Linked DNA regions of Homo sapiens. The protein of the gene in region 1 purifies or fractionates together with the protein of each later gene. This does not show direct contact. Each region holds a gene or a part of one and is shown in the gene's direction. Other genes may lie near its edges.

What was found.
Region 2: the proteins of ACSM3 (region 1) and MIPEP purify together in Homo sapiens (affinity purification with mass spectrometry; one large-scale study listed by BioGRID and IntAct). This does not show direct contact.

The regions. Positions count from the first base shown.
Region 1 is NC_000016.10:20,770,505-20,774,328, forward strand, and holds part of ACSM3 (acyl-coenzyme A synthetase ACSM3, mitochondrial), read left to right. Parts: intron 1-3,824. UniProt on the Homo sapiens protein: Catalyzes the activation of fatty acids by CoA to produce an acyl-CoA, the first step in fatty acid metabolism. Capable of activating medium-chain fatty acids with a preference for isobutyrate among fatty acids with 2-6 carbon atoms.
Region 2 is NC_000013.11:23,840,665-23,844,488, reverse strand, and holds part of MIPEP (mitochondrial intermediate peptidase), read left to right. Parts: intron 1-3,000; coding exon 3,001-3,154; intron 3,155-3,824. UniProt on the Homo sapiens protein: Cleaves proteins, imported into the mitochondrion, to their mature size.

The DNA.
Region 1 (3,824 bases):
ATAAATGTAGAATTCTAGGTTGACTTAAAAAAAAAAAAGGAGAAGAGTGAAAAGTAATTCCAAGAGTCAGAAATGGTAGAAAAGGAGGCACAGATAAATCTTTGGGGAAAATGTAAAGGATGCAAGAATTCTCACTTATTGGAAAGAAAAATGATCAGGCTAAATGGGAAATGATTTGGGCCAAAAGAAATGACATGGCTTCCAACGTCTAGAAATAAGGACCCCAAAGTTATTATTTTTCCTGTTATGTTTAGTTATGTAATAACTATACATAGTTATGGGGTACAAAGATATTTTTGATACATGTATAAAATGTGTAGTGATCAAATGAGGGTAATTAGGCTACCCATCATCCCAAACATGCATCATTTCTTTGTGCTGGGAGCATTCAAAATCCTCTCTCCTAGCTTTTTGAACATACTCAATATATTATTCTTAACTGTTTTCACTCTACAGTGCTATAGAACACTAGAACTTATTCCATCCATCTAGCTATAATTTTGCATCCATTAACCAACCTCTTTCTATGCTCCTCTCCCCACTACCGTTCCTAGCCTCTAATAGCCACAATTCCACTCCCTACTTCTATGAGCTCTTTTCAGGCTGGAGTGCGGTGGTGTGATCTCAGCCCACTGCAACCTCCGCCTCATGAGTTCAAGCAATTCTTGTGCCTCAGCCTCCCGAGTAGCCGGGACTACAGGCACCTGCCACCATGCCGGCTAATTTTTGTATTTTTAGTAGAGACAGGGTTTTGCCATGTTGGCCAGGCTGACCTTGAACTCCTGGTCTCAAGTGATCCGCCCACCTTGGCCTCCCAAAGCACTGGGATTACAGGCGTGAGCCACCCACCACGCCAGGCCGAGCTCCTTTTTTTTTTTTTTTTTTTTTTTTTTAAGAGACAGGGTCTTACTTTGTTGCCCAGGCTGAAGTTCAGTGAAGCTCATTTTTTTAAGCTCCCACATATGAGTAAGAACATGTGGCATTTATCTTTCCGTGTCTGACTTATTTCACTTAACATAATGTCCTCCAAGTTCATACATGTTGCCACAAATAACAGAATTTCATTCTTTTTTATGGCTGAATAGTATTGCACTGTGTATATATACCACATTTTCTTTATCCATTCATCTCTTGATAGACATTTAGGTTGATTCCATATCTTGGCTATTATGTACAGTGCTGCAATAAACATGGCAGTGCAGATATCTCTTCAATAGACTGATTTCCTTTCCTTTGAAAAAATACCCAGTGGTGAGACTGCTAAATCATATGGTAGTTTTATTTTTAGTTTTTTGAGAGGCCCTTATATTGTTTTCTGCAATGGCTGTACTAATTTATATTCTCACCAATAGTGTTTCAGAGTTCCCTTTTCTCCACATCCTCTCAAGCATTTGTTATCTTTTGTCTTTTTGACAATAGCCATTCTAACTGGGGTAAGATCATATCTCATCATGGTTTTGATTTGAATTATCCTGATGATTAATGATGTTGAGCATTTTTTCATATACTTGCTGCCAATTAGTATGTCTTTTGAGAAATGTCTATTCAGATTCTATGTCCATTTTTTAATTGAATTATTTGTTTTGTTTTGTTTTGTTTTGCTGTTGGGTTATTTGCATTCCCTGTATATTCTGGATATTAATTCCTTGTCAGGTGAATAGTTCACAAATATTTTCTCCCATTCTACATCTTGTCTCTTCTCTCTGTTGATTGCTTCCTTTACTGTCCAGAAGCTTTTTAGCTTTGTATAGTCCCATTTGTCTGTTTTTGGTTTTGTTGCCTGTGTTTTCATATCCTTATCCCTAAAATATTTGCCTAGGGGAGTCTCAGAGCCTACTCTGGCTCAGGATCTGCCCAATTTTATTAAATTTATTATAAAATTTAAAAAATTTTAAAAATTAAAATTAAAATAAAAAATAAAACATTTGCCTTGATCAATGACTTGAAGCATTTACACTATATTTTCTTCGGTTGTTTTATAGTTTTGAGTCTTACATTTAAGTCTATAATCCAGTTCGAGTTGATTTTTGTATATGGTGAGAGAGAGGGCTCTAGTCTTAGTCTACCACATATGATTACCACTTTTCCTCGGACCATGTACTGAAGAGGATATCCTTTCCTCAGTGTATGTTCTTGGCACCTTTGTTGAAAATCTGTTGAATGTAAATGTGTGGGTTTAGTTCTGGGTTATCTATTCTGTTTCATTGGTCTATGCATCTGTTTTTATGCCAATACCATGCTGTTTTGGTTACTATAGCTCTGTAGTATGATTTGAAGTTAGGAAGTGTGGTGTCTCTACTAAAAATACAAAAATTAGCCGGGCATGGTGGTGCATGCCTGTAATCCCAGCTACTAGGGAGGCTAAGGGAGGAGAATCACTTTAATCTGGGAGGTGGAGGTTGCAGTGAACTGAGATCACACCATTGCACTCCAGCCTAGGTGACAAGAGTGAGACTCCCTCTCAAAAAAAAAAAAAAAAGATTTAGTGTTAGTTCTTATGGTAGAATTCAGCAGTAAAACCATCCAATTCTGGGCTTTTTTTATTACTGATTCAATCTCATTACATATTATTGGTCTATTCAGGTTTTCTATCTTGGTAGGTTATGTGTGTCCAGGAATTTATCCATTTCCTCTATGTTTTCCAATTTGTTGGCATATAGTTGTTCATAAGAGTCTTTAATGATCTTTTGTATTTCTGTGGTACAGTTGTAATGTCTCCTTTTTCATTTCTGATTTTATTTATTTGGGTCTTCTCTTTTTTTCTTAATCTAGCTAAAGATTTGTCTATTTTGTTTTTCCTCAAAAAATTTTGTTTTGTTGATCTTTTATAATTTTGCCTCAATTTCATTTATTTCTGCTCTGATCTTTATTATTTCTTTCTTTCTACTAATTTTGGATTTAGTTTGTTCTTGCTTTTCTGGTTCCTTGAGGTGCATTCTTAGATTGTTTATTTGAAATCTTTCTGCTTGTTTGATATAGGTGTTTATGGCTATAAACTTCCCTTCTTAACACTGTGTTTGCTTTATTTCATTGATTTTGATATATTATGCTTCCATTTTCATTATTTTCAAGACATTTTTTGCTTTCCTTCTCAATTTCATCATTGACTCACTGGTCATTCAGGAGCATGTTGTTTAATTTCCATGTATTTGTACAGTTTTCCAAAGTTCCTCTTGTTACTGATTTCTAGTTTTATTCCATTGTGGTCTAAGAACATACCTGGTATGATTTCAATTTTTAAGAATTTGTTGAAATTTGTTTTGTGCCCTAACATATGGTCTATTCTGGAGAATGTGCCATGTGCTGATGAGAAGAAGAATGTGTATTCTGTAGCTGTTGGATAAAATGTTGTGTAAATATCTGCGAGGTCCATTTGGTCCAAAGTGCAGTATAAATCCAATGTTTCTTTGTTAATTTTCTGTCTAGATGATCCGTCTAATGCTGAGGGTAGAGTGTTAAAGTCCTGAACATTGTTGTATTGGAGTCTATCTGTTTACATCTAATGATATTTGCTTTATATATCCAGGTGCACTGATGTTGGGTGCGTATATATTTACAATTGTTATATCCTCTTGCTGAATTGATCTATTTATCATTATATAATGACCTTCTTTGCCTCTTTTTATGTTTTCTGACTTAAAGTCTATTTCATGTGATATAAGCATAGCTATTCCTGCACACTTTTGGTTTCTATTTGTTTGAAATATTATTTTCCATCTCTTCATTTTCTGTGTCTTTTTTTTTTTTTTTTTTTTTGAGACAGCGTCTCACTCTGTCACCAGGCTGGAGTGCAGTGGCACGATCTCAGCTCACTGCAACCTCCG
Region 2 (3,824 bases), on another chromosome or scaffold:
GCTGCCTGCCTTTCTTTCCAGTTTTGGGGGCAGCAGTTTGCTCTGTGGCCTTGATTCTCTGCTGAATCTAAGAAGATTCTTGATTTTCAGCTTGTTCAGCTTCCTGCTTGTTAGGATGGAGTGGTGACTTTCAACCTCCTCATGTGCAGGAGTGGAAACCTCAAGCCTGGACCACTTCCTTTTATAGTTTATTTTCTCCCCTCTTTCCATGCACTCCTTTCTCTCAGTTCTTCAGTACCTCTGAACTGTTCTGTGTCTTCCTTCCCACCCCTCCCTCTGGTAGTTCAGGGGTCTGCCCTTTACCTTCTCTGCCCGCATCGCCCTTCCCTAATGGCCCTGTCTCCCTCTATGGCTCTAATATCTGTACAGTGAAGTCTCCTTGTTCTCCTTAGCTTTGGGTCCTGAGTGTCTGGTATCTCATGGGCACTTCACAGTCGGTTCCTCCAAAATGGAGTTTATTTTCTGTGAGCCCTCCATCCTCCTCCCATCATTGCACCTCACCCTCCTCTCTTCTCCCACAAACACACCCAGATTCCCCTCTTCCTTTTTTGTGTTCATTGTGCCGGCTGATTCAGTGACTCTACCATCCACTTATTTGTCCAAGCCAGAAACCTGAGTGTTATTCTAGATTGTTCTGTCTTTCTCATCACCCTCCAAATCCAATCACTCACACAGTCCTGAGACGTTTGCATCTCAAAGGAAAAACACATTCATCCCTGACCCCACTGCCCTCTGTCAGAGTTCACCCTCTGAAGCCTGGAAGTCTGTCCTCCTGTCAGCCCTCCCTGCCTCCTGCATTCCACCCTCCATGCTGTCCACTGTGCAGCATTCCAGAAAACATCAGATGCTCCCCTATGGCCTACAGAAGCTGTCTCCCAAATGGCATCTGTAAGCAATTCATTGAGAGTGTAGTCATAAAATATTAGAAATTCTATGTATATTTATTTTTCTTTATCTCAACTTATAAAAATGTCTGCTTTTCTTTTTGCAATGTGATAAAACAATACCACATGCATATACTTTATGAGTGTACTAATAGAAGGTTGAATACTCAAAAGTTATTTTAGTGTGCATTGGTGAGGAAGCTTAGAGGCCATGGCCTATGGTGCATGGTCCCAGTTCCTCAGCTTAGTGGACCAGGCCCTCTGTTTTCTGGCCCCTGCCTGCCTTTTCCAGACTCCGCTCCCATTCTTTCTACATTTATCCCTGCATTGGTAACTGCTTCATCTTTAACCACATCCTTTCTAGAAGTTACCAGGCTATTTTATGCCATCATACTTTAGTTATACTGTCGCTTCTGCCTAGAATTCCTATTATGATTCCCATTTTCCATTCCTCATCCCAGCCCTGCCTTGCAAAGTCTGATTCCTTTTTTTTTTTTTTTTTTTTTTGAGATGGAGAGTCTTGCTCTGTCGCCCAGGCTGGAGTGCAGTGGCACAATCGTGGCTCACTCAACCTCCGCCTCCTGGGTTCAAGCAATTCTCTGCCTCAGCCTCCCGAGTAGCTGGGATTACAGGCACCCGCCACCACACCCGGCTAATTTTTGTACTTTTAGTAGAGACGGGGTTTCACCATGTTGGCCAAACTGGTCTTGAACTCCTGACCTCATGATCCACCCACCTCAGCCTCCCAAAGTGCTGGGATTATAGGCGTGAGCCACAGCACCCGGCCGATTCTTTCTTGATTCCTATCCGAGAAGCTTTCCCTGGTGCTACTCTGCACTCCACAAGTAAAGTCATCATGCTCTCCTTTGCCCTCCCATTTTGCAGTGCTCATTCGTTCATGCTTCAGCACTGTCTGTTGAGCGCCAGCCGTGTGCCCACTGCACCAGGCCCAGGACACAGTGTAGTTGGTTCACTTCTCTGCCTCTTTCAGTGCCAGCTGCTTAGACACAAAGGCTCTTCATTCTTCTCTTCCAGCACCCCGCAGGTTTGCTGACAGCATGCTTGAGTGAACGAACCAGGGAGCGAGGGCACTGGATCATGAACGTCTCTTTCAACACTAGGATTCTGTTTAAAGAAAAATCAGTCAGAAATTAAGGTGTAAATTTGTGGATGTCCATAGCCAAAGTCTCATTTGTTGTGCAATTTATGTTCACTTACTAAACTCATTCATTTATTAGTAACTATGTTTTTATATTTTTATATATAAATTTGTTGTGGGGACTCATTTTATGGAACGAAGTGTTGTGCAGTTCTAGAATCACAAATAAAGCCAATTGAAAAAAAAATGTGTATTTTGGTAATCCTAAAAAGTAGACATATAATGAGAACCTACAATATTCTAGAGCCATTATTTTTGGCTATGGCTATATATTTTGGCTTGACTTAATGATTCAAATGTAAACATTCAAATCACGTATTTTGGATTTGCTTTGGTTTATATTGGAATATATAGAACAGAAAAAGTTATTTTTGGGTGAAGAATAATTCACCTTACTAGTTACGTTGTCTTTAATTTAAGATATCTAACTATAAAACAGATAAGATCTGATTATTTATATTGCAGGCATTTTTTTCATAAATGAATATTTTACTGGATGAGAACTTTAAATTCACTTAATGTGCCTCAGGATTTTTATTCATTTAATATTTATGTATATAGGTCACAAGTTTCTAGAATATAATTCATAAGGTAAGAGTTACCATTATAACTGAAACTGATCATATTTTGCATGTAAGTATGTATAAGGAATGTATACAGTGAGCAGTTGAGACTGCTTAATTGGGTTAGTGAAAGAGTAAATAACAGGGAAGGGACAAAGGTTAGGGAATGATATATCTACCTTAATTACTGACTTATAACTAACACTAGTAATAATCAGACTGTCATTCTGAAGAAAACTGTCTGAAAACCCCTCAAATGATATAAATACACTTTTATGTTTTGAATCCTTCTTTAGCTCCAGTGATCTTAAGTATTAAATGAAAAGTTAATTGAATTTACCTTCAGAAATTGAAATAAACAAAGATGCTGTTGAACCTCTCTTCCTTCTCTTAGGTATAATATTGAGCCCAGCCTATATTGCCCGTTTTTCTCTCTTGGAGCATGCATGGAAGGCCTGAATATTTTGCTTAACAGACTGTTGGGGATTTCATTATATGCAGAGCAGCCTGCAAAAGGAGAGGTGTGGAGCGAAGATGTCCGAAAACTGGTGAGCTCCTCCTGCTCAGCCTGCAGTTGCAGGCATTTACCTTTCGGTTGGGCAGTTGAGTCAACAGCAGTTTCAGGTTTACATCAACTTTGCCCTGACTGAGTGTGTCCCCTGCCTTATTTCTGCTTCACAAAAAAAATCCAAATTGCACTTCTGATTTAAGACACTGTATAAAGGATCCAAACATAAAACAGCAGAGTTTTCTAAAAAAGTTTTTTGGAACTTGATAGAAGGTTGAATATATATGCACCTTCATATATCCACAAATTCTATTTATAGGAAAATTGTCCTTTACTTTGTATATACCTTCATAGCTGTGTGTCCGTTTTGGTTAATTCCCAAATCCATTGGATAAGTGACCTTTTTTCTCTCCAACCCCCATCCCATGTTGTAGGGGCTTATATTTGCATCAGATATTAATTTACGTCCGTGTTCTGATTTATTTAACTTCTTTGATAATAACTTCAAACCTAGCAATCATCTTTCTCCTGTGAAGGCCCACTTTATATGAGGCATGAATATTTTAAATTTTTCCTCATAGGATTTGAGGCTTTGTTGACCTGTGTGTGTCACTAAGGCTTTGTATTGTTTTGTTGTTTGATTTTTGCTAGCATGCTTACCACACTGCTTTCTTCACTATATTTTAAGAAATGTAAACAGTCTCATTGTC